3 linked regions of the Homo sapiens genome follow. The protein of the gene in region 3 interacts with the protein of the main gene of each other region in a pairwise test. Each region holds a gene or a part of one and is shown on either strand. Other genes may lie near its edges.

Region 1 (6,444 bases), on a different chromosome or scaffold from region 3:
CTTTCTGTTATGACAGAGTACAACAGCAGGTATTTTGCAAATAAACTACAAAACAGTCAAACTATTTAATACTTGTTTTATTTATTTATTTATTTATTTATTTTTTTGAGACAGGGTCTTGCTCTGTTGCCCAAGCTGGAGTGCAGTAGCACAAAGATGGCTGACTGCAGCCTTGACCTCGTGGGTTCAAATGATCCTCCCACCTCAGCTTCCCAAGTAGTTAGAACCACAGGCCCACTGCCATGCCCTGGGGTCTCTCTCTGTTGCCCAGAGATGAGGGCTCTCCCTGTTGCCCAGGCTGGTCTCAAACTCCTGGGCTCAAGCAATCCTCCTGCCTTGGTCTCCCAAAGTGTTGGGATTACAGGCGTGAGCCACCTCTCTCAGCCAATTTAATAAGTTTTAATGTTTCATAACAACTGTTTCCCAGGTCATAATATGAACAATTTTTTTCCTATTTCTGTTTTGAAGTCAGGCAAGAATTAGCTTCATTTAAAATGTCCTTATTACATTTAATTGAACATTATCAATTACCTTTATGAAGAATAACAGAGGAACCGTAAAGCTGTATTTCAGCAAAACATTTTAATTATAATTCTGAAACCTAATCAGAAAAAAAATGTATTTAGTACAATGGTAATCCATTAAATACAACTCATCATTGTTAGGCTGTCTCTGTTATGGAAACTATCATGTTATGAAAAGGTTATGAAAAGGTTAGGAAACTATCATGTTATGAAAAGCTAATATTGAATCTTTTAAAAACAACTGAACTTTACCATTGCTAGAGATTTTTTGAAAAGCTGTAGATACACACGTTGGAGATAAAACAATCAAAATTACTTCCTGAAGCTAGTTTAACAGGTTCTAAATGCTAAACAAAAATTTCATGAAATGACTCAGGTGATAAGATTGTAAAAATTTCTTCCTGAAGCTATTTTGGCAGCCTCTAGGGATGTGAAATTCCCTAAGGTGCTCTAATGGGAAAAGTCCTAGAATAAGAACCAGAATCCTTGACTTCTACTCCTGCTAATAAGCTAAGTGAACTTAGGTCAGTATTTAACCTCCTACAGTTTGCTTATTTGTTCATTTGAGAGACTCACACTTTCCTCACTACTTCTATGTATTGTAGCCAGTTTCAAAATGCTGTGTGAAATTTCCCATATTATCTAATCATTTCCAACTGATTATTTTCTCAGTTACTCAGAATTTTTACTACTATCTGTGTTTCTTTGCACACAAGGTGAATCTCCCAACTCAATAAGAGATCATTGCCATTTCACATTTCCCTGCCTCCTGCCTGCATGCACACTGCTATTATGTCCCCTGGATTGTCTTTCAAAAATCCTCATTGTTGTAGGTAAAGAAGGGACCCACTCTGTCTGAGTAACTGACTGCGGAGCCCAGCCCAGACAGACACACATCCCAAGTCTCTGCTTCATCTGTCCTAGAGGAAACTGGCTCGTGGGGAATAGCCACAGTGGGTCTGATGGCCCGGCAATCTCCTGCAATTTTCATAGGAGGTGGCCCTGAAGGAGAGGCTGCCCTGGTGACTGTCACCGGAGGACCCCAGGGTTCTGGATAGACAGACATCCCAGTATCTTCAGGAGCATAGTTACAGCTCGAAAGGCTCTTCACCTCTCGCACACTGTCACTGTATTTCATAGCAGGGGGCTGGTAGGCCTGGTAGGACACTTTAGTGGTGGTGGTGATCACGGTTTGTAGGGCAGGGGCACCTGGTGGTGGAGTCGTGAGGTACCTGCAGGGAAGCTCTGGGTTATAATAAGGGCGAGTGGCCATGGCCTGAAACTGCCCATGGTTAGTCCTTTCCACAAGGCTGGGTTTTCCAAGAGCTGGTTTCCAGCCATGCTGTTTGTTGGTGAAATCAAAGCTTCTCTCATAGCTGCTGTATGAATTGACATTACATTGTAGTGTGTTCAGATGAACCCAGTCTGTGTCATTAGGGATACTGGTGGAATCCTTATAAAGGGTGGGATATGGGCTTGAATTTGTATAACCAGGGTTTGCCAATTCATAGCTGCAAGGTGGCCTAGGCAAATAGATTCTTGGGCTTGAGTATTTCTGGAAGGGTGGCATTTTGTCTCCTTGAAAGGTGGCTAGGTCACAGGTAGCTTTGTAAACATCAGACTTTGGGAAGGAAGGGCAAGGCTGCCCTGGAATAGGGAAGCTGGTTTCAGTAACTATATCAAAGTCTTCTGGATTTTCCAAGGGAGGTATGTTGCTGAAATGACCACTGCTGTCTTGATTTTCTTCTGCCTAGAAAAATGATACAAACATAGACACACGCTATGTAAATCGTGTGGACACCCTCACCTGTAACAATAGCCTAGAAGTAAGTAAAAACAGACATCCATGTGCTGGGCTCTGTGTTGTGAACATGGCACTGCTCAGGTACGTGATGTAAGCACGTGGTCCAGGGGTTGCTAAGCTTGGGCTCACTCAGACATAAATACCAACGACTGAATGACAAAGGTCCATGGTAGCCAGGTAGGATGCTTCTGAGTGGCAGATGGTCCTGTTCTCACCTATACTGTCTTCCTAATAGTGGAGACTTAGGAGCCACACGGGCCTGGGTTCAATTCCTGACTCTGTCCCTCACAAATTGTACAAGCCACTTAACCTCTCTGAGCCTCAGATCCTTCATCTTAAAAATGGAACTTAATAACAGTAACCTCATTATAAGGTTTCTGCAACCATTAAATGTGTGAAACTCTTAGACCAGTGCCTGGCACATAGGAAGTGCTGGAAAATGTCAGCTTCTGTTATCCTTACACTAACACTCTGCCTGCTTGGCGTGCTTTGGTTGAAAAGCCAAACTGAATTAAATTGCGCAGAGAAATTTTATCCATTCTTGTGGATGAAATAATGGAAAGGACCCTCTCAAGGGTGCACTGTTAACTTCCTGTTGGTAGGCACATATTTCTATCTTTATTACTGTTGCATAATCGCCCTTATATTAGGATGTCAGCTCAGCACACTGACATATCAGGACTGTATCATTGCCTGTAGAGATTGTTGCTTTTTGTTTTAAGGAGAAGGGATTAGAAACCCTGTCCAAATGTTGATTTAATGATATTTTGTTACAGACGTATAATTTTCAGATGAAATCAAACCCTTGTAATTAACGTATGACCTTCATATTTTGCATAACGATCAGCGTATCTTGGGATGAAAATGAGCTGAGACCACTGTGCACTATCAGCTCCCTGTTACCTCGGATTCTCGAATTCTCTTTTTCTGGGGTTGGTAGAAAGAGGCCATTTGTCTCTTGATGGCGCTTCTTCTAGCTTCTGTCTCTGATTTGCTCTCTGGTCTTGGATGATCATGAACTCCCTTGGCCTGCGATAACGAGAAAATGAATCATACATTTGTGCCTCTAAAGGAAGCTGACAATGTTGCCCAAAAATTGATCATGCCTTTCCCAACATCTCAAGAGTTTAGTTTTGTTTCTTTCAAAATGACAGAAAAAAAAATTCTTGAACAAATAAAACAGGCTCAAGAATTGACATCTGAAAAGATCACCTGCAATCCCTTCACTCTATTAAAAGAACTATAACTTGGTTTACCATCTGTGTACCTTAAAGAGCACAAAGTAGTGAGTGAATTTCTAGGCTCCCGCTAGGTCCCTGGGGAGCTCCAGCACCTATTTCTGGCCACTGGGGCTGTATTTTGTTTGGCCCAGGGTTCCCAAGGCACACGACAGGTGGTTTGGCCTTTGTGGTCTGATGAAAAGTATCCATCACAAATTGTGTTCTCACCTGACCTACCTGAAAAAAGATCGCGTTGCCATCAAGCCGCCAAAAGTTGGTTACGGGGTATCCGCTGTGCCCTCGACAAGGAATCAACTCCAAAGCAGAATGACAGTTAGGGCATGCCTTCTCTGCAAAGCCCAGAAGGGAGAAATATTAACCCTGACCCCAGACCCTTCTGAAGGAAGAAGGGGAAAATTAGCTGGGAACAAAGAACTCATGCTCGGGCGCGGTGGCTCACGCCTGTAATCCCAGCACTTTGGGAGGCCGAGGCGGGTGGATCACTTGAGGTCAGGAGTTCAAGACCAGCCTGACCAACATGGAGAAACCTTGTCTCTACTAAAAATACAAAATTAGCCGGGTGTGGTGGCTCACGCCTCTAATCCCAGCACTTTGGGAGGCCGAGACAGGCAGATCACCTGATGTCGGGAGTTCAAGACCAGCCTGACCAACATGGAGAAACCCTGTCTCTACTAAAAATGCAAAATTAGCCGGGCGTGGTGGCGCATGCCTGTAATCCCAGCTACTTGGGAGGCTGAGGCAGGAGGATCGCTTGAACCCGGGAGGCGGAGGTTGCAGTGAGCTGAGATTGCACCATTGCAGTCCAGCCTGAGTGACAGAGTGAGGCTCCATCTCAAACAAACAAACAAAAACAACAACAACAAAAAACTCATGACTCCAAGGTCACCCTCTCCCTGGCCCCATGTCCTCACTCTGCTGTTTCAGCCGTGCCTTGTCGCAGATGGCCGGCCTCAGCTGCAGGCGGGAACCGTCGGGCAGGGTGCAGGCCTGTGTACACACCACCACACCCAGGCACGACTTCTTGAGGATGTGGCCATTGTGGTTGTTGGTGTTGCGCATGGCCCAGCCGCTCAGGTGACGCTGTGCCTTCTTCTCATCGCTGCTGTAGATGAAGCGCACATAGCCGTCAGGCCACTCTCGGAATTGGTCAAAGAGGGCCAGCTCCTGGAAGAGTGCAGAAGGAAGGGTGGTCAGTCTATCCAGTCCAAACTGCACACATCATGCTCTAAAATTTCTCTGAGCACATTAGGATACAAACCAGTTCTTTTTAAATCCAGTAACGTCAAATTCCAAAATGCCACTCTTTCTATGTAAGACTTCCTGACAACCAGGTAATAATTAATGTTTATATAGTGCTTATCTGTTAAATGCTATACATGTATTAGTTCATCTAGACTTCAAATTATAGGCAAACAATTATTTCCAATTTGCCGATGAGGACATGGAGGCCAGAGAGGTTAATCGACTCGCCCAAGGTCACATCACACAGCTAGCAAGATCTGGATCCAGGATTTGCACCCTGGCAGTCCCATTCCAGAGCCTGTACTTCTTACCACTATGTTATATCACTTCTTGGTGTGTTTAAATGTTGAAAACATTTTTAAGTTAGGTATCAAAGTACCAGGGGAAAAAGTGATTGGAATGTTCTATCACTGAAATGCAATTTAACTGGTAAATATCTTTAAGTCAGTGCATTTTCTTCAAAAGCACTTGGCTCTGTATGCCAAACCTGTCAGTCACATTAGCAGTGGCACCCAGAGTAATGTCAGAGAGGAAAGAACAGCTTCCCTCCCTACTCTCAACTTGGCTCTCCAAGTTTAAAAGGGTACTGCAATGAGGGACTTAAGCCATGAGCTTTGGGGTGTGGGTGAGCTTGTCTGGCACGGGACTGCTCCCCAGAGCAATATGGGACTGTCATTCTCCTCAACAAAGAGCCACATGGCTGCAATAATAAGTTGTATCTAAAATACTGAGCATTGCCTTAGTATTCATATTTGGTAGTCTTTGTCAATTTAATGCATTATTTACACTGCAATAAATGTCACTTTTGCATATAAGTTTCATTGAAAAATCACCCTTTACTGAGCACTTCCTTTTTTCTTTTTTTTGAGATGGAATCTCACTCTGTCACCCAGGCTGGAGTGTAGTAGCATGATCTCAGCTCACTGCAACCTCCGCCTCCCAGGTTCAAGTGATTCTCCTGCCTCAGCCTCCTGACTACCTGGGACTATAGGTGCATGCCACCACGCCTGGCTATTGTTTGTATTTTTAGTAGAGATGGGGTTTCACCATGTTGGCCAGGATGGTCTTGATCTTCCTGACCTCATGATCCACCCACCTTGGCCTCCCAAAGTGCTGGGATTACAGGCATAAGCCACCATGCCCGGCCACTGAGCACTTTCTTTTATGTAATGTTTAGGGCTGCTTTCACACTACAGTGCAGAATTGAATATTTGGAACAGAAACAGTATGACCTGCAAAGCCATATTATGCAATATATATAATTCTCACAACATCTTTGCAAGATGGACATCTTTACTCTTGTTTACTAAATAAGGAAGTGGAGGTTCAATAGATAACCTTTCACAGTGGCATAGCTGGAATATAAACAGAAGATGGGTAGCAGCCAGACCCAGTAGCTTTGCTGGTGTAATAAAGGCTCAGAAGAGTGTATAATAGCAGTAAGCCATTTGCATCTCCTCCCCACTCTTGCCACTCAGGAAAATTAGATCAAACATTTGCAAAGCTGAAGTATTCACAGTTGGAAAATTCAGACTTGTATACATCATTAATACTGCACATTCTAACAGTAATAAGGTTAATGGGTGATTTTGTTTCCAAAATTACAAAGATATTGTTGAAATCATTATTACTA
Region 2 (7,722 bases), on a different chromosome or scaffold from region 3:
GGGGGAAGATGACAAAATATCCTTATAAACTCCATGTTAGCAATGCTTCAGTTAGAGGGCTGTTTGCAACAACATACAGCCCCTCCTGTAGCTGAAGCCAGCAACACCATGGCTCCCTTTCTTGATTGTCTAGGCCATGATTCTATTTCCTAATTGTATACTGAAGGACCATTTCTAGGTCCTATCACATAGGGAGAAAGGGGCATAGCATCTTATCCCGGTGAGTCCCTATGTGTTATTCCTTTAAAGTCTTAATTTCTTACATGCATTTCTTTTCGAAAGACTTAGGCTTCAAAAATTGTTCCCTGGTTTTCAAATCCATACATCTGTTGTTTACTTTAAAGTTTAATTCCTTGAAAACACATCAGATGCCTTGAGCTTTTCATTAGAAAGATGCCGTCATCTACAGGATAAAAATAATCAAGAATTTTTATACATAAAAACTGCTTTGAAAATGAGAAGTTAATGCAGCAAATCTCCCCACCTGCTGATGCCAAAACCAGATTTTTTAAAAATTCCTCTTCCTGAAAATAGTCCGTAACTAATTTCAAGGAGTTGTTTTTAAACCATTGTAGAAATAGAGACATTATCTTTTGGCTGGAATTTTTTTTTTTTGAAGATTTTTTTTTCGGCAGGGGAGTGGTGCTATTTTGGTTTTTTGTATGTTTTTATCAGTCATGGCTGGGTCTGTTTGCTCTTTGCCATTCAATTAATGATTCGCACCAAATTTCTAAAACTCCCAATTACTACATAAGCTCTTTCATAATACACAGTCACATCAAACAGGGGGTATAGACCCTGAACTTAATTTTCTTACAGTGACATCTCTTTAAGATTTTTTCTCTGCTAAATTATACTGCATCATCATGGCACACACTATGTGAATTCACACAGTCCAACTGGAGTTAGCAATATCTCCTGGCTGTGATTGGCTTTCTATATGTTTGAAATATGGTTCTGTGAAAAGACCCAGAATCAGGAGGTCTGAAGTCTGATCCTTCCTCTGCCACTTACTTGGCTGTGTGATCTTAGACTTGCTTCTCACCTCTCCAATATCCTTATCATGAGCCTTAAATAAGATAAAGCAGAGGTGTTTAGGAAAGCTCCCAAGCACTCAACAAATGCTACAGAATTTTACTATTATTAACACACTTTATTAATTTTAACTCTAAACTGAAGTACAATGCTGTCAAACCAAGACCTCTTCATTCAGTCTTATTTTTTACTTTATCCCGAAGAAGTTAATTCTTTCTTTCTATTTGGCACCTTTTTGACAAGAGGCTTCAACACTCTCATCTGGGAATTATTGTCTTTTTATTTTCCCCTCCTGATGCCAGAGTTGCTGTTGACAATATGTATTCAGGCAAGGCAGGGACTCACTGCATTTCACAATCAGATGCCATGCACACTACTTCCGTCAAAACAATTAGTGTTCATTTCGGCTTTACTCCATGAGACCTGCGGTGACTGATCAGTATAAATTATAGATGCATCTGTCCAGATGCACTTGTTCATTCATGCATAGATTTGAGGAAATTTCATTCTTCTCAGTTCAAAAACAGTCACTAAAAAATCCATACTTAAAAAATATAATTTAGCACATCTTCAACTCTGTTATTATGTTCGTGTACTCGCTCATTCCATCTGGGATTTGAGGCATTTGAAGTTGATTTGGGGCATTTCCAGGTTGTTATATTTCCCCCTGTAAAATCTGCTGTCTTTATAAATCATTAGAAAATCATAGACTTTTTTAACCCAAAATAATGAAATACAGTTTGTTTTTCCTCTTTTATTGTTTGTTTGTTTTTTGTGGTACCTGCATGCAAGCTTATTGTGAAACATACATACTTTACTCCGCCTGCTCAGGAACTTCAGTGCATTTGAAGCAAAGCAATAAGAGCTTCAAATAAACAATGTGGATTAGTACTCTCTGGTACACATAGGCTTTTGATTGTTTAATTTGTTTCACATTTGTTTTAATGAGCAGCTAGAGGAACTATCAGGCATGTTGCACAGTACAACAAAAGAATCTCTATCATTTGTTTAAAATACTTTAGGTGGAATGACTCCCTTAAATATAACTGGGAGGGTCTATATTTGATGGATTTATTTACTTGCTTCAATAAAATTCTATGTGTACACATATACAATTGGGGCTTTTTCTCCGAAACTAAATTAATCAGTGCTGAACAAAGCAATGAAAAGCTGCCGGGGTGGAGAAGCCCAAGGCTGCTGAAGTGGGAGTCTGTGAACCGTCAGGAGGACAAAAGCAAATTCCACTGCAGCTTCCCCTCAATCAGATTTTCCAAGAAACAGACATCTTCTCACCTGAGGTTTCTGCCAGACAGAGGTTGATATTGGCTTAACCCACTGGCATTGTTTTGTTACGAGGGTCCCAAAATAACAAGAAGAGTAGGCACATTTCATAAAAACCATTTTTAGGAAACCCCATTAAATGCTCAAGGTGGTAACAATCAAATGTCAGCAAAACAGGGGAGGTTTACCGTGGGTGCAGCCTCTCCCTGGGAAGGAAATGTTAAATCAAGGTCTTGCAAGGCTGGGAAGCCGGAGGAGACATGGCAGGCCTTCCTCCCTGGGAAGTATTCTGATAGAAGCTGCAAAAAACCATCAAGCAACTTTGAGGACAATAGAAAAGGTGTCTTAACATAAAACCTGCTCTTTTGTTTGTTCGCTTGTCTTTCCAGAAGAAGAAAAATGCCAAGATATCTTCATAGTCCTACTTCCCAATTTTCTTCCCCACTGTTCCTCAACATCCTCTTTTCTTTTTAAAAAATTGTGTTGCTTTTCTCAAATCCTAGAGAGCAAAGACAAGAAGTAGGCCTGGAGGCCCTGCACACAGCATTGATAAAACAGAGGTCTTATAAATCAGCTAAAAATCAATAATTCCTATATGGTAGTTTCTCCTTTGCAACCATATCGCCAAGGGACAGGGCTAATGCTTTTTCTCCACCACCAGCCCCATTTTTCTGTCATAAAATTTTTAAAAAAAATTCTGCTTAGGAACAAATGGGCAATCGAAGTTGCTGAGTCAGTATTTCTACTATCTAATTTTATTACTTTACAATTGACATACCTTCCCTCTGGAAATGTTTGCAATTAATTAATTAGCAGTAATCTTCCCCAAGGGATGAATTTAATGAATACTCTCCAATTCTTACTTTAAAAAAATAGCATAGATGTATCCAAGCTGCAAATGTGTGGATAGTTCCAAAGTGCATTTTGAAAAATCAAGGGATCTATCTATTACTGTGAATTTTTATCACTAAGTCAATCTGGTGAGGACTATAATTCTTTTTCTAACTAGGAGTTTCCCTGGATGAACGCAAGGTTTCTCCAAGGTAACAGCAGCAGCAGCAGCAGCAGTAGCTGTGTTTGTTAGTATTTAGAATGGAGCTTGTCCTCATGTTAACAATCTCTTAAGCAGAGGAGTCTCTGGTTTGTGGCTTAAGCTCCTTGAGCATTCTGCAGAATGTGTTTTTAAAACGGGGTGTGGGGACCTAGAGATGTCATGCTAAAGAGATCAGTGTAAGGTGCTAGTGGCAAACTTGGAGTTGAGGTACGCCCCGTCCAGGACCCCAGACCTTGCCCCGCCTCATACAAGAACCCAGAGCCGTTGCTATCTTCTGGGCCACAGGCTCTCGCGTTTCAACTAGAAAATAAAACTGGGCCCTTGAACCAACCCCTATGGCTCCTTGGAGGAGTTGCAGCAAGAGCCTGGTGCAACTTTAAAAGTATAAAGCGCTTTTAAAAGTATAAAGCGCGGTGACCCCGGTAAGTGAAAGGCAAGGCTTTCTGAGGTTTCTGGCCTGCAAATCCCACTGGATTCCTGCAGTGCCCACCGAAGACCTTCCCCTACCAGACCGACAGTCCCTTTTCACCCCTAGACGTCGCGGGTTGGAGGCTCTCAGAAGGGCAGCTGGGGCCAGAGTACTGAGCCTTCAGATGTGCAGTCTACCGTGCTCGCAAATTGGAGGTTCCATGTCTCGGGGCCAGGCCTAGAGGAGGCAGCCCCTTCCTGGGTACCAACGAGCCTCCCCCACCCCTGCCGCCGCCCACCCATCAGTGCCCCTTTGAAGACCCCTGGGATGGAGTGAGGGGGTGGTCAGACCGCTGGGCCCAGCCGGGCGTCCAGGAGGAGCGCAGGGAATGGGCCGCCCTCCCGGAGCGCTCCACTGCGGCTCTCCAGCGCCACCCCCAGCGGAGCGCAGGGGCTGCAGCCCGGACCGGGAGCCTTCTTCAGGCTCCCTGGCTGCCCCGCGGCCACTGCGGGAGGCGCGCGCGCGAGGCAGCCAAGCCTTGCCTTCGGAGGAGATGCCCAGGGATCTTAGCAAGCAGCCTGCGGCTGCCAGGGATCGGACCTGGCGAGTTTCCCGACGGAATCTGAGGGATCCCGAACCTCGGCCTCGAGGGGGCGCTATCCGGCCTACTCGAGGACCAGGCAGCTGCAGAGAAGCTCCAAGGTCAAGGCCCTGGGCCAGGCCAGGGCTTGGAGAGCCGGAATCTAGCCCGAGTCCTGGGGAGGCTGAGGCGGGGAACCAGATCCCCGAGGACAAAGATGGGCGGGCCAGTGGGATCCACCGACGCTGCCCGGAGCTGCTCCAACGAGAGCCGGGCCTGTGGCGTGAACAAACTTTACTTCAGCGCAGGGGCGGAGGAACCGGGCTGGAGGCTTCTCCCCCGGGCCTCTGCTCTCCTCCACCTGCCAGTGCTCAGCCTCCGCCCAGCCTTCGCCCACCCCAGCTCCCTCCCCCTCCCCCACGCGCCTCTGTTCACTCAGACTCCTGTCTCCCCTCTCCCCTCCTCCTTCTCCCTCTTGCCTTTCTCCCCCACTTTTCTCCTGTCTCTTCTTTTGTATTCTCTCCTCCCTCGCCGCCCCGGTTGCCTCTCGCCTCCTCCGGGCCGCAGGGGAGGAGGTGAGCGCGCTGCGCCCGGGGCCTGCGCGGCTCAGAGGGAGGCGTTTCTCCTACTTCTCCCGGGTAATTTGGAGAGGTTGTGTGTGTGTGCGCGCGCGCGTGAGCTCCAGGCGAAAAGGGGTAGGATTCAGCGCCGAGCAGAGAGGGTCAGGGTTTTTGACGTTCCTCGCCAGCTGCACAAACCTCCCGGAGCAAGTGTGAGTGTGGGTGAGAGTGCGCGCGCGCGCACGGGCTGGCTGCGCTTGGCACGCTTGGTGGCCCAGGGTCCCGGGGCCCGGGGTCCCGTCTGGCGGCCCGGGATTACCGTGACGTCACATTGAGCCTCTGGCCACCTTGGACTGGGACACCTCCGGAGCCTCACAGCCCCGCGCCGCGCCGCGCCTCACCTCGCCACCACGCGCCTTTGGGAACCCGCATCTTCTTCCTTCCCCTGCCCATCCATGGGCCCTTCTGTCTTCCGGACCCCACGGGCCGGAGGGGCGCCTTCCGGAGCGCAGGGCTCGGCAGCCGGGCTGCCCTCGGCTCTGCCTCCACTGGGGCCAACCAGGCGAAGGAACCGGCGCTGGGCATCCGCAGCGGTGTAAGGAACTGAGACACCTCACTGCTGGGGGCGCGGAACAGCTGGGCTGAGACGGGAACTCGACAGGGAAGAGAGAGACGGGCCAGGGACAGCCACCATGTCCTTCCCACACTTTGGACACCCGTACCGCGGCGCTTCCCAGGTAAGAGGCGCCTCTATGGGGGATAGGGGACAGACTGGGTGGAGGGAGTGCCTAGTGCACGGCGCCTGCCTCTGATCATCCTCCTCTTGTGTTCTGGGGGAAGCCAGAAGGAGCAAGGACCAGGGTAATGTGTCACAGCCTCCTCTGACATCCCCAGTCCCTAAATGAGAACGTTTCACCCCGGAGTGCACGCTGGAAAATCTTGTGACCTGAAACATGAGCACTCTGACCACGCGCTCAGTGAGGTGGGTGGGATCACAGGGATCTCCCAGTCAGGCCTCCTCCTATACAGAAGTCTGAGGTGGCCGGGAGAGAAAGAAAGAAAGAAAAGAAAGAAAGAAATAAGGAAGGAAGGAAGGAAGGAAGGAAGGAAGGAAGGAAGGAAGGAAGGAAGGAGAGAGAGAGAGAGAGAGAGAGAGAGAGAGAAAGAAAGAGAAAGAAAGAAAGAAGGAAAGAAAGAAAGAAAAAGAAAGAGAAAGAAAGAACTTGTAGGCTACAACGCTGTCCATCTCACCATATTGTTGTTGATTTGTTGACCTCGGCTATTCTCCTACCCCTTCCTTGGGCGGGCCCAAGCTCTCCGGTTCCCTCGATTTTCCAAACCAAAGTGGATGTTGTGCAATGACAAGGGTTTCCTGGGAAAGTTCTGCGGACACCCCCTCCACTGTTCTCCAGCTTTTCTCTAGAGTTCTGAGTGTATTTTCCTGTTGTCTAGTGCCGGCTCGACCTTTGACCTGCTGTGTGATCTTAGACAAGTCTCACACTCTCTCTGATTATCCACTCCCAATCTATAGAATGGGAGCAGGAATGAGACGTTAATAATGGTCTCTAAGGCCACCTTCTAGCTCCGCCTTTGCAGGATCCTGGGAGGAGGGTAGGGAAGGGAGCAGAGGGTTTGGTGTCTTTAATTCCGGTTTCAAAATGTTCACATTTTCCCGGCCTCCTGGGGCTCTGGGGCCTTAGCAATGGAGTAGGAGCATCTATAAGGGCAGTTTGGTTAATTTATAATTCCCGTCCCAGCACCTAACAGAATGCTCAGCCCAGGTGGCATTTAGTTAATGCATAATGAAGGAATGAATGAAGGAGCAATCTGATTATCTGATTTTCTCTTCTTTGTTTCTAGCTCCCTTCAGCGGGAGCGGGGGCGGGGGTGGGGGGGGGGTCTCTGACCTCCAGTGCCCTCTTTCTTGCCCCTATAGTTTCTGGCGTCGGCAAGTTCCAGCACCACATGCTGCGAATCTACCCAACGCTCTGTCTCAGATGTGGCATCAGGCTCCACCCCAGCGCCCGCTCTCTGCTGCGCACCCTACGATAGTCGACTGCTGGGCAGTGCGCGACCGGAGCTGGGCGCCGCCTTGGGCATCTATGGAGCACCCTATGCGGCCGCTGCAGCTGCCCAGAGCTACCCTGGCTACCTGCCCTATAGCCCAGAGCCCCCCTCACTGTATGGGGCACTGGTGAGTACAGGGGTGGAGTCCCAGGGGAGTGAGCAGTAGAGACAGGTGAAATCCAGAGAAAGTCAAGGAAAGACCCACACCTCCCGAGGAAAGGAAATGGTTAGGACTGTGTATAAGGAGGACAAAAAAATACAGTACCTTACAGTTTGCAGAACTTCATACTGTTTAGAAAACATTTATACTTCTATTAATTCTGTGAGGTAGGCAAGTAATCATTAATCTCAATTTAAGAATGAGGAAATAGAGGTGCACAGGAGTTCAAATACTTTGCCCAATGTCACAGAGATACAAAGGGTCAGAGAAAAGCTCCTGAAGAAGATTAAAGCAGGAAGTGCCCCAGCTGGTGTGTGTTGTGGGGCAGGGGGCGGGGGGTGGGGGGCAGTAAGGGGGGAAAGGAGGGAGGGACAAGTGGTACAGTAATAACAGCAGCTAATATTTAACTACTGCTTATTCTGCACCAGGGATTCTGCCAAGCATTCTGCCAGCATGGTCTTCTTCAATAACCTATAAGTACTATTATCCCCATTTTACCAAGGAAGAAATTGAGGCACAGAGTGGTTAAGCCACTGGTTAAGCAACTGTGCCCAAGGTCACACGGCCAGTACCAGT
Region 3 (3,175 bases):
GTAGGTAGAAAAAGAGGAGGAAGACTCACGAAACTGATTCTGCTCACGGGTTATAGCAATGACCTTGGCTGGGGCAGAGGTAAAAACTCATCTGAAATAAGGTTCCTGGAGTATTTATCATCCTGTTTCTCTCTTCTAGGCAAGGAGTTTCCAAACCTAGCCCAGGGCCAATGCCTGGAGCTCTTGTTTGAAATGCAGATTCCTGAACGCCAGCCCCAAAGATTCTGATCCAACAGGTACGGGGTATACCCACGAATCTGTATGTCTAGCAAGGGTCCCCTGTTCCAGGTGATCCTGACTTAGGGGATCCAAGAACCAGTATTTGGGAATAACCACTCTAACACACCCTGTCTCCATATATGATTGTCATTCACTGACAATTGGTGGTGCCTCAGATGAGAAGCCCGTGTAACTAACAGCCAGCATGTTCCTAGGCTCCCACACGGATGCACCTATGTGTCATGGGGCATGTGTCTCTGAGATCTGCCCCCCAGCCACTTCACACCGTCCTTGTAGCACACATGCACATTACACCAATTCAGTTCAGCAAATGTTTATTGGGCACCTACAATAGGCAAGGCACAGTACCAGCTGCTGTGGGTTACAAAGACAAGAAGGCTAGGCCTCACCCTCGAGAGGCTTACAGTCTAATAGGGAGAGACACACTCACAGGTAACAAAAATACAAGGCAAAATGAGGTGAGCTCTATGGCAGAGGCAAAAACAACGGGAGAACAGCGAGCAGAGATAGATCAGACATATCTCAGCAGATCAGATGTTGGATGCAGGGAGTGACGTTTCAGCCAGGCTCTGGGAGGTGGGTCGGATTCGCACAGGTGAACTGGAAAAAAGAGGACACTAAGGCACAGGCAAGGTATAGAGGTGGGAAAGTGCAATGAATGTTCAGAGAACAGAGATGCCTGCCTTGACCAATACATAGGAGGCCAACAGGATAACAGAGGGACCTAAGCTGGGGAAGTGGTTTCAGGCCAGATGGTGTGATCGCTCGTAGTAGGATTTCTTTCTTTCTTTCTTTCTTTCTTTTTTTTCAAATGAAACAAAGCCTTGATCTACCACCCAGGCTGGAGTGCAATGCCACAATCATAATTCACTGCAGCCTCAACCTCCTGAGATCAAGCGATCCTCCTCTAAGTAGTTGGGACTATAGGCACAGGCCACCATGCCCAGCTAATTTTGTGTGCATGACTATTTTTTGTAGAGACAGGCTCTCACTTTGTTGCACAAGCTGGTCTCGAACTCCTGACCTCAAGCGATCCTCTTACCTTGGCCTCCAAAAGGGCTGAGATTATAGGCTTAAACTACCACACCCAGTTATAGTGAGGAGAATTGACTTCATTCCACTGGTAATGGTGAACCATTGAAGGTTTCTGAGCAGAGGAGTGACATGACTTCATTTCCACAAGTCTGGGCACACTGCTGTTTGTAATACATGATTAGCTTTATTCTTTTTGTTAACCTTACTCTATGGCTTACACCCCATCCTGGTCTCAAAGCAGAAGTGTGAACCTGAGCCCTGTGGCCACACATACTTTCCAGGCTTCACAAAGCAGGAAGCAGTGGCCTTAGCTAGGTAAACTCTGAGCTCATTTAACAGCTTTGCACCTTCTCCACAGAAAAGGAAGTGAGGCTTTCCAGAACGATTTGAGAATAAGAGGCAGGGCACAAGGATGGTACTTAACAAACTTCTGTCACCTAAGCATGGCAAGAATAAGCTGCAGAGAAAATGGGAGTGCAGAAGAAAATGGTGGAGAGATGCAAATGATCTAACTAGCATCATCCAAACTGAACCCTCTCCCAGTATGACTTCTGTAATAACCCACCTCCACCTCCAGCTAGTGGGAAGGGAGATTCCACAGTCTGACTCACTAGATCAGTTGATGGGGTTTCTAAGCACTCTACACATGGAAGGATCGCTGTGCAAAGAGGCTCCTAGGATCCTGCTTAACCATCCAGTGAGGAAGGAGAATGGTGCCCACCCGCTCCTGGGCCACCCCAGCCCGCGAAGGGATGCGAGGCCACTGCTGTCCAGGTGGACACAGCAATGCTGGTTAGCGAGGGCTCCCCCAGAACCTCCACACCAGCCGAAGTGGGTGCTTGGGTGGAGAGCACAGAAGGGGGTGAAGTCACAGCTGGGTTTCCGAGGAGAAATGCTCCTGGGGTGCTGGCGTGCACCTCCGGGCCTGGCCCACTGGGGCCTCCGGCACCATTGCTGATGGTCCACAGGCACGGGTAGGGGCTGCAGAGACAGAGAAAGAGGGGAAGGGAATGTTCACTGGCACTCCAAGGAAGGAGTGCCACCTGACAAGCATGTACACAGTGCTGAGAAGGGCATGGTTACAGGAGGGCTTCTGGCCATGGCTTTATTTCTAGCTATGACGCAGATTGGTCCTGTTTCTGCAGAAAAGCTAAGAGAAGCAGCAAAGTATGGTGGAATAATGATAAGATTAAGTATTCTGGTACTGGCCCGGCCACCAGCGAATTATTTGGTTTTAGACACAGAATTTCATTTATCTGGGCTCCCTTGCAGCCTATGTAAAATTGGCAGGGCAGTAGAAAAAAAGGTATTAAAACTGTATGATTTCTGCATATGATCTCTCCCTGGCCAATGTGGCATAATAACCAGGAAACATCACTGTCAGAAGACTTAAGTTTAAATCCCAGCTCTACCACTTAATTAGCTCTGTGGCCTTGGCTAGATTATTTAATATCTCTGAGTGTCAATTTCTCATCTTCAAGATGTGGATTCATAATTTTACCTACCTTACAGAGATTGCTACAAGGATTAAATAAGAGGAGTATATGGTCCTTAGCATGTAGTACTCAGTAAATGGTGGTTGTTAACATTAATTCTTCCATTCCTGGTCTCCGCCTGTGAGCTCTGGTGCCTGGCTGAAAGGCTGGGAGCTACAACATTTTCTTTGCCTTCTCTAGTTCTGTAGCACAGGTTCACACACTTGATTGCACATTCGGCACATTGGAATCACTAGGGGGGGTTTTTAAAGTAATATTGGTGCCTGGATCCCACTCTCACCCCACTCCCCTGCCCCAGAGATTCTGATTGAACTGATCTGGCATGCAGCCTGAGTACGAGGATTTTTTTAAGTTTCCCAGGTGACTGTAATGTACAGCCAAGCTTGCACCTTAATATAGATGCA

Evidence for each region.
Region 1: the proteins of TBX19 (region 3) and GCM2 interact in binary tests that used the Homo sapiens proteins (3 or more experiments, as listed by UniProt).
Region 2: the proteins of TBX19 (region 3) and IRX6 interact in binary tests that used the Homo sapiens proteins (3 or more experiments, as listed by UniProt).

Annotation. Positions count from the first base shown.
Region 1 is NC_000006.12:10,872,660-10,879,103, forward strand, and holds the end of GCM2 (chorion-specific transcription factor GCMb), read right to left. Parts: intron 4,734-6,444; coding exon 4,481-4,733; intron 3,899-4,480; coding exon 3,786-3,898; intron 3,358-3,785; coding exon 3,232-3,357; intron 2,275-3,231; coding exon 1,336-2,274; 3' UTR 564-1,335; downstream 1-563. UniProt on the Homo sapiens protein: Transcription factor that binds specific sequences on gene promoters and activate their transcription. Through the regulation of gene transcription, may play a role in parathyroid gland development.
Region 2 is NC_000016.10:55,319,481-55,327,202, forward strand, and holds the start of IRX6 (iroquois-class homeodomain protein IRX-6), read left to right. Parts: upstream 1-4,722; 5' UTR 4,723-5,611; coding exon 5,612-5,656; intron 5,657-6,855; coding exon 6,856-7,113; intron 7,114-7,722. UniProt on the Homo sapiens protein: Transcription factor. Binds to the iroquois binding site (IBS) motif of target genes to regulate gene expression; functions as a transcriptional activator or repressor. Modulates expression of RCVRN, VSX1, BHLHE22/BHLHB5 and TACR3/Nk3r.
Region 3 is NC_000001.11:168,311,789-168,314,963, reverse strand, and holds the end of TBX19 (T-box transcription factor TBX19), read right to left. Parts: intron 2,257-3,175; coding exon 1,962-2,256; 3' UTR 538-1,961; downstream 1-537. UniProt on the Homo sapiens protein: Transcriptional regulator involved in developmental processes. Can activate POMC gene expression and repress the alpha glycoprotein subunit and thyroid-stimulating hormone beta promoters.